Regions from separate parts of the Homo sapiens genome. Here region 1 is linked to region 2. The links come from fine-mapping of genetic effects on gene expression. A gene starts in region 2. The other region holds a variant in brackets. All regions are shown on one strand. Distances are between the middles of the regions.

What was found. PIP is the estimated chance that this variant, and not a neighbour inherited with it, causes the effect.
Region 1: its variant is the best candidate, but not a certain one, in a credible set for the expression of LRWD1 in whole blood (INTERVAL, PIP 0.59).

What each region holds. Positions count from the first base shown.
Region 1 is chr7:102,341,227-102,345,738 of GRCh38, reverse strand. No RefSeq gene overlaps it. Among named protein-coding and RNA genes, the nearest start is that of SPDYE6, 13 kb to the left of the region's middle. The variant C/T (reference allele first, on the strand shown) is at 2,553.
Region 2 is chr7:102,462,541-102,466,761 of GRCh38, reverse strand. It overlaps LRWD1 (leucine rich repeats and WD repeat domain containing 1), which reads right to left and starts at 1,778. Exons shown (of 15, transcript NM_152892.3): 1 at 1,602-1,778; 2 at 711-945; 3 at 492-608. The coding sequence starts at 1,681. It overlaps ALKBH4 (alkB homolog 4, lysine demethylase), which reads left to right and starts at 1,899. Exons shown (of 3, transcript NM_017621.4): 1 at 1,899-2,048. The coding sequence starts at 1,926. It overlaps MIR5090 (microRNA 5090), which reads right to left and starts at 1,020; the gene lies at 936-1,020. RefSeq lists enhancers at 325-850, 1,128-1,227, 851-1,377, 1,507-2,156 and a silencer at 1,568-1,997.

The DNA.
Region 1 (4,512 bases), 120 kb after region 2:
CATATTGGTCTGGATTGATTATTTGCTGCCCAGTGATATTTTTCCTTAATGGGGTTGTGGTTATTTGAACATATTTATTAGCTCTGGAAGATAATCCTGTGCTGTTTTTTATGTAGAAAAAAACATAAGGCTGGGTGCAGTGCTCACACCTACAATCCCTGCGGTTTTGGAGGTCATGGTGGGAGGATCACCTGAGGCCAGGAGTTTGAGGCCAGCCTCAGCAACATAGCATCTACATCTATTTTTAATTTTTATTTTTTAAAGAAAAACAATAGAAGAGAAGGCTGATCCCAAGCTACAGGGTTTTTTTGTTTGTTTGTTTGTTTTGGAGACAGAGTCTTGCTCTGTCTCCCAGGCTGGAGTGCAGTGGCACAACCTCGGCTCCCTGCAACTTTCACCTCTGGGTTCAAACAAATTCTCCTGCCTCAGCCTCCCAAGTAGCTGGGACTACAGGCACCCGTCTGTACGTCCGACTAACTTTTGTAAAAATAGTAGAGACAAGGTTTCACCATGTTGGCCAGGCTGGTCTCGAACTCCTGACTTCAAGTGATCCACCTACCTCGGCCTCCCAAAGTGCTGGGATTACAGGCATGAGCTACTGCGCCCAGATGCCAAGCTAGAGTTTTAAGGCAGGAAATGAGAGAAAGATATTGAGAGAGGAAAACCAGGTGGTAAGAAAACTCTAAAGGTGGCCGGGCGTGGTGGCTCACGCCCATGATCCCAGCAGGAGTTTGAGACCAGCCTGGCCAACATGGTGAAACCCTGTCTCTACTAAAAATACAAAAATTAGGCAGGCGTGGTGGTGCACGCCTATAATCCCAGCTATTTGGGAGGCTGAGGCAGGAGAATCACTAGCAGAGATTGTGTCTCCTCACACCCTCTCAAAAAAAAAAAAAAAAAAAAAGTTCGTTCCTGCAGCAGTTAAAGCTGTGAAAGACAGGCACTCTGACATGCAATTCTTTGTGATTTTTCTTTTTCCTTTTTGGAGTTGGGGTCTTGCGCTGTCACCCAGACTGGGGTGCAGTGGTGTGGTCATAGCTCACTGCGGCCTCAGACTCAAGCTCAAGCGATCTTCTTACCTTGCCTTTCAAATTGCTGGGATTATAAGCATGAGCCACTGCATCTGGCCTGAGACACAATTCTGTTTTTGGTCTTTTTTTTTTTGGGGGGGGGATGGAGTCTCGCTCTGTCACCCAGGCTGGAGTGCGGTGGCGTGATCTTGGCTCAATGCAAGCTCCGCCTCCTGGGTTCACGCCATTCTCCTGCCTCAGCCTCCCAAGTAGCTGGGACTACAGGCGCCCGCCACCATGCCTGGCTAATTTTTTGTATTTTTAGTAGAGACGGGATTTCACTGTCTTAGCCAGGATGGTCTCGATCTCCTGACCTCGTGATCTGCCCGCCTTGGCCTCCCAAAGTGCTAGGATTACAGGTGTGAGCCACCGCGCCCAGCCTATGTGATGCAATTCTGATGTCAACTCCCTGATGTTACCTCAAATGCCACAGGTTAAGGCCACCAGCCCCTACTAGGCTGCCCTCGCTTTAGACACACCTGCAGGCTTGGGTGTCCTCAGACCACATGTACTTCTCACCAACTGGCTGCAAATTTGGAGGTTCCCACCATGCCCTCAAGTTCGATAACTCACTAAAACAATTCACAGAATGCAGAAAAGCATGATACTTTCTTTCTCTTTTTTTTTTTTTTTTTTTTTTCGAGACAGAGTCTTGCTCTGTCGCCCAGGCTGGAGTACAGTGGCCACCATGCTTGGCTAATTTTTGTATTTGTATTAGAGACGGGGTTTCGCCATGTTGGCCAGGCTGGTCTTGAACTCCTGACCTCAGGTGATCCACCCGCCTTGGCATCCCAAAATGCTGGGATTATAGGCATAGCCACCATGCCCGGTTGACTTCTAGAGTTTCAATAACAGAGAAGTGATTCAAGAAGGGAGACATGTTTTGTAGATGGCAGGAGCTTCATGAAAAGAAGCCAATGAAGGGCAGGACGTGTAGCTGTCTACCTACAGGAAACCAGCCAGGAGCCTCCCCACAGGGACTTCAGCACAGATGGCCGGGAAAATCTGCATTCACCTGAGCTCTGGACCTAAGAGAGGACAAGGCCTTGACCATTTCTACAGACTCACAAGATGCAATCTCTGTGGTCCATGCCCGTGGTGTGATCTGGGAAGCAGGGGGCCTTCTAAATGCCAACAACAAGGAAATCAAATGTGCAACAAACAGAAATAACGGCATTGACGTGGGCCATGGAAAGGCCTAAACAGATGACTGCAGTTCACTGCCAAGGTCATCAAAGGGGTGACTCTGAAATAATAAATTTCAGACGCCACGGCCCAAATAGCTGCACGAGGTGGGGAAGTCCTCCACATGCCTCTGCTTCCTTCGGTACCTGTTTATGAAATCAGCCGAGGTACTTCCCTGGGGAATTTCCTTTCTCTTTCTTTCTTTCGAGACGGAGTCTTGCTCTGTCGCCCAGGCTAGAGTGCAGTGGTGCAATCTCAGCTCAATATAACCTCCCCCTCCTGGGTTTTAGCAATTCT[C/T]CTGCATCAGACTTCTGAGTAGCTGAGATTACAGGTGCATGCCACCATGCCCAGCTAATATTTGTATTTTTAGTAGAGACAGGGTTTCACCATCTAGGCCAGGCTGGTCTTGAACTCCTGACCTCGTGATCCACCCGTCTTGGCCTCTCAAAGTGCTGGGATTACAGGTGTGAGCCATCACGCCCGGACTTTTTTTTTTATTTTTTGAGACGACGTTTCACTCTTGTTGCCCACGCTGGAGTGCAATGGCACGATCTCAGCTCACTGCCACCTCCTCCTCCCAGGTTCAAGCGATTATCCTGCCTCAGCCTCTCGAGTAGCTGGGATTACAGGCACCCAACACCAAACCCAGCTAACTTATTGTATTTTTAGTAGAGATGGGATGTCACCATGTTGGCCAGGATGGTCTTGAACCCCTGACCTCTAATGATCCACCTGAATTGGTTTCCCAAAATGTTGGGATTACAGGCACAAGCCACTGCGCCCAGCCCCTCCCACACCTCTTTTGGCCAAGGCAGCACAATTCAGAAGAATCTTGCCAGGGAAGACTGGTAAATGGACGTCAACGTGATGCCTATGGCTCCTGGTGGATTTAGATACCTCCTGGTGCTTATTGATATCTTTACTACCAGTTGCATGGGGGCTTTTCCATGCCAGACTGAAAACGCAGGAGATCAATGATCAACCTTCAACTATTTACTAGCAGAACACTGAGGGGACTGTGCAGTCACCAATACCTCCTATTGCACTTGGATAAACACCTCCCAGGAAATAGAGATGAATAGAAAGGACATAGTCAAACAAGCAGAATGGCTGCATTCCTTCAACCAGAAGGGTCCATTAGTCTGTTTTCACACTGCTATAAAGAACTATGAGAAACTGGGTAATTTATGAAGAAAAGAGGTTTAATTGACTCACAGTTCTGCAGGCTGTACAGGAAGCGTGGCTGGGGAGGCCTCAGGAAACTGACAATCACGGCAGAAGGCGAAGGGGAAGCAGGCACGTCTGGCCATGTTGGAGCAGGAGAGACAGAGAGAGTGAAGTGGGAGGGCTGCACGCTTTTAAACAACCAGATCCCACAAGCGCTCACTCAATATCACGAGAACAGCAAGGGGGAAGTCGGCCCCCATGAGCCAATCACCTCCCACCAGGTCCCTCCCACAACACTGGGAATTACAATTTGACATGAGATTTGGGTGTGGATACAGAGCTGAACCATGTCAAGGGTAGTTCAACCGCTGAGATTGATTGATTGATTGATTGACTGAGATGGAGTCCTGCTCTGTTACCTAGGCTGGAGTGCAGTGGCACAATCTCGGCTCACTGCAACCTCCGCCTCCCGGGTTCAAGCGATTCTCCTGCCTCAGCCTCCCGAGTAGCTGGGACTACAGCACATGCCACCATGCCTAGCTAATTTTTGTATTTTTAGTAGAGACAGGGCTTCACCATGTTTGCCAGGCTGGTCTTGAACTCCTGACCTCGTGATCACCCTGCCTCGGCTTTTCTTTTGCTGGAATTACAGGTGTGAGCCACCGCACCCAGCCAACAACTGAGATTTAGAAGGCAGTCGAGTCCACTATACCGCACCTCACCTGGTTTCTTCCTCTGTTGGGGCCCCTCGTGGCCACTGTTCTGTTACTTTTTGGTCCTATTTATTTAAATGGATGGTGAGCTGTTTGTTCTCCAGGATCCAACACTTCCACCTTCAGCTTGTATTACAACAATACCAGCCTTTCAAGCTACTCCGGGTGACCCCAGAACTCATTTGAACTCAGAAGCCCAGGAGTTTCATTCCTTTCACTTTAGGGGACTCAGTGCCCTGCTCAGCATGAAGTCGAAGCAGAAGCATGACCTCCATCCCTAATCCCTCAAGAATGAGGAGTGGAAGGTGTTGGCAGAAGGGTGGGGGTGAGGTTTGTAGATCTGTAACTGCATCAGACCAAATCTGGTTCAACTTTTT
Region 2 (4,221 bases):
AGGTAAAAAAGAAACACCCCAGAAAAAGCTACTTAGAAGAGTCAGGCCGGGTGTGGTGACTCATACCTGTAATCCCGACACTTTGGGAGGCCAAGGCGGGCAGATCACCTAAGGCCAGGAGTTTGAGGCCAGCCTGGCCAACATGGTGAAACCCTGTCTCTACTAAAAATACAAAAAAAATTAGCTGGGCATGGTGGCAGGTGCTTGTAATCCTAGTTACTCGGGAGGCTGAGGCAGGAAAATCACTTGAACCTGGGAGGCAGAGGTTGCAATGAGCCAAGATCGCATCACTGCACTCCAGCCTGGGCGACGGAGTGAGACTCCATCTCAAAAAATAAATAAATAAATAAAGTAGCACATCAGGCTAGGGGCTGTTGGGGCAAAGAGCCTCTATCAGTCACCCTCCTCAACATCCTCCTGATGTCCAATTCTATCATTCTCCCAATGCCCCCACAGCTCCTAAGCACACAATAATCCTCTCATCCCCTTACCCTGCTGGTCAGCTCCCGATTCAGGTTCTCCACCTGAGAGTAAGTTGAGGACGCATCCTTGCCATTGACCTTACGGAGCGTGGGCAGGAGAAAGGAGACTTTCAGGTTGTCATTGACCTGGGGAAGAGAGGGTGAAGAGCAGTGGCTCAGGAGATGCTGAGCCTGAGCCCAACAGAGTCCTGGCCCCAGGTATGAAGCTGGTGGGAGGCTCCCACTTACCGTCAGGAAGGGGTTGCCCTCCAGGCTGAGTTCCTCGAGCTTGGGGAACTGGCACAAGGCAGTAACATCCCCCAGCTGGTTGTTGGCGCAGCGGAGGACACGCAGGTGGGACAGGCCCAGGTTGTCCGGCAGCGTCTCCAGGTGGTTGTTAGACAGGTCAAGCTCCTGCAGCTGCGTCAGGCGGCACAGGAGTTTGGGGTCCAGGTGCTCGGAAAGCAGCTCCAATCCTGACAGGCTGGAGTTGGGGGCAGAAGGCTTAGGGGGCGGGCAGGCTTTGCACCCTACACCAATCTGCCCCGGGTACCTCAGAAGGCTTTTTCACCTGACATTTCTCGTACAAGTGTAGCCGCCCCGCCCATCCCCCCGTTACTTTATTTTTAGAGACGGGGTGTCACTCAGTCGCCTAGGCGCGATCATAGCTCACAGCTGCCTCCAACTCCTGGGCTGAGGGATCCTCCCGCCTCAGCCTCTCGAGTAGCTGGGACTAGAAGCGCGCGCCACTACTCCCGACTCCACACCACTTAACAAAAAAAAAAAAAAAAAAAAAAAAAAAAAAAAAAAAGCTGCAACTACTTTAGGACTCGGGGGCATCCTAGCCCCCTCTAGGATGCTCTTCCTGATCCTTCGGGGGCTCGTCTGTGCTTCCCAGGCCCTCTAACGATAGCGGCAGGCTGTGCCCCTAACTGTCCGGGCTCCCTTCAGGGGATGAGGCCCCTCGGGGCTCCCGGCGAGCGGGTGGGGCCACGATCTCCCAACAAGAAGACATTTGGACCACTCTGCCGAACCCAGAGGGCGATAACGGGGACAAGCGGGCCGTTGGGGAGGGTCCCCGCTCTTCTCCCCGACCGCCCGGCCCCGAGGACACAGCCTCACCCGCTGCCCGGCTCTTACTCCAGACTCCGGATCTTCCCCAGCCGGTCGCTCTTGGGGCGCCCGCGCTGCATTAGCAGCCGCGCCGAGAGGGGGCCCATGGCGAGGAGGCGCAGCCCGCGCTGACCCAGTCGGCCACCCCGGCGTGTGGCGTCGCCCTGCGTCTCCTGGAGCCCGGCACTGGCGTCCGCGGTAACTGAGCCCAGGAGGCGGCGCCGCGCGAGCCCGTGGGCGTTAACGACCGGAAGGAAGCGGAACCCAGGCCTCGTGCCCCCGCCCGGCGCGGACTACAACTCCCAGCGGCCCCCACGGCCGCGCCTGCGCACTGGCCACGCGGACGGCGCGATGGCGGCGGCTGCCGCCGAGACCCCCGAAGTCCTTCGGGAATGCGGTTGCAAGGGCATCCGGACCTGTCTGATCTGCGAGCGGCAGCGCGGCAGTGACCCGCCCTGGGAGCTGCCCCCAGCGGTAAGGGGTGGGAGAGGGGCCGCGCCCACAAACGTCGCTCTGCATCTGGGGAAACTGAGGTCCAGCTTGGCCATGATAGGGGCCGGGATCGAAGCCTGTGAGGGACCCTTACGGTAGGGGTGATGCAGGGTGAGGAGATGAGGGCTTTAAGGAGCGGGCTTGGGAGTGGGGAAGGAGCTGGAACGTGGGTGGGTTCGATTACAGGTCACCTCGGGGACTCTGGGGGGATCTGCCTGTAAACCTCGACGTAGCCTCTCGGGTCTGGCGCTGGGAGCTTCACGGGCCTGCAGGGAGATGACACGGAAAGGGTCGATCGAGGGTGCTGAATACCAGTCCAACGGTGCCTGAAGGCCGTGGACTGCAATGGGCAAGGAGACAGTGAATTCCAGTTAACTAACGAAAAGGAACTCAAGGATCGCTGCAACCCAGGAGCTGGAGGCTGCAGTGAGCTATGATCGAGCCACCTCACTTCAGCCTGGGCGACAGAGCGAGACTCTGTCTCACAAAAAGAAAATAAATAAAAAAAGAAAAAGAACTCAGCGCCTTTGGGCTGGCATGGAAGGACTGTGGTTGGTTGCAAGGGCATTCCAACCCAGAAAACTGCGTGGGGTAGGAAGGTGGATTGGTGATGCCTCAGGTGAGAGAGATGAGGCTGGAGAGGTTGTGGGGGGGGGGAGGTCTGATCACAGATGCTCCCCGGTGCATCAGCTGAGCAGGCTGGACTTGTCCCAAAGGCCCTGGAGAGCTCTTGAAGGGTTTTAAAGGAGTGATGAAGTCAAATGTGAATTTTAGAAAGATCCTGGGAAGGGAACGGGCAGATATGAAGGTGTGGAGGCTGGTAAGCCAGTGAAGACTGCCCCAACGTCCATGGTAAAAGTGCCCAAGGTCCTATGGAAACAGCATGGCATGCCTCATGAATTAAACATAGAATTACCCATGATCCGCAATCCTGCTTCTGGGTATATATCCAAAGGAACTAAAAGCAGGGTCTGGAAGAGATATTTGCACACCCATGTTCATATTCACGACATTATTCATGACAGCCCAAAGATGGAAGCAAACCAAGCATCTATCAAGATACCTGGGCCGGGTTCAGTGGCTCACGCCTGTAATCCCAGCACTTTGGGAGGCTGAGGTGGGCAGATCACCTGAGGTCAGGAGTTTGAGACCTGCCTGGCTAACATGGCGAAACCCTGCCTCTACTAAAATTACAAAAACTTGCCGGGCTTGGTGAGGCACATCTGTAATCCCAGCTACTCGGGAGGCTGAGGCAGGAGAATCGCTTGAACCCAGGAGGCAGAGGTTGCAGTGAGCCAAGATCGCACCACTGCACTCCAGCTCAGGTGACAGAGCAAGACTCCTTCTCAAAAAAAAAAAAAAAAAAAAAAAAAGAGATGACTTGATCCACAAAATGTGGTGCATACACATAGTAGAATACTATTCAGCCTTAAAAAGGAAGGACAGGCCGGGCACAGTGGCTCACACCTGTAATTCCAGCACTTTGGGAGACCGAGGCAGGCAGATTGCCAGAGCCCAGGAGTTTGAGACCAGCATGGGCAACATGGTGAAATCCCACCTCTACAAAAAAATTAACCATACATGGTGACACGTACCTGTAGTCCCAGCTACCCAGGAGGCTGAGGTGGGAGGGTTGCTTGAGCCTGGGAGGTCAAGGCTGCAGTGAGCTGTGATCACGCCACTGCACTCCAGCTTGGGCAACATAGTGAGACCCTGTCTCAAAAAAAAAAAAAAAAAAAAGGACATTTTGACATATGTTACAGCATGGACGAACCTTGGGGACACGATGCTAAGTTAAGGAAGCAGTCACAGAAGACAAATACTGCATGATTCCTGTTGTGTGAGCTACGTAGGGTAGTCACAGGGACAGAAAGTAGAAGGGTTGTTGCCAAGGGCTCAGGAAGGGGAGATGGGGACCTGTTGTTTAATAGGGAAAGAGTTTCAGTTTTGCAAGATGAAAAAGTTCTGAATGGTGGTGACGGCTGTACAACAATATGAATGAACTTAAGAGTTTTAATTTGTGGAAGGGGCCAGGTGCGGTGGCTCATGCCTATAATCCCAGCCCTTTGGGAGGCTGAGGCAGGAGGCTCGCCTGAGTCTAGGAGTTTGAGACCAGCTTGGACAACATAGCAAGACCCTGTCTCTACAAAAAATT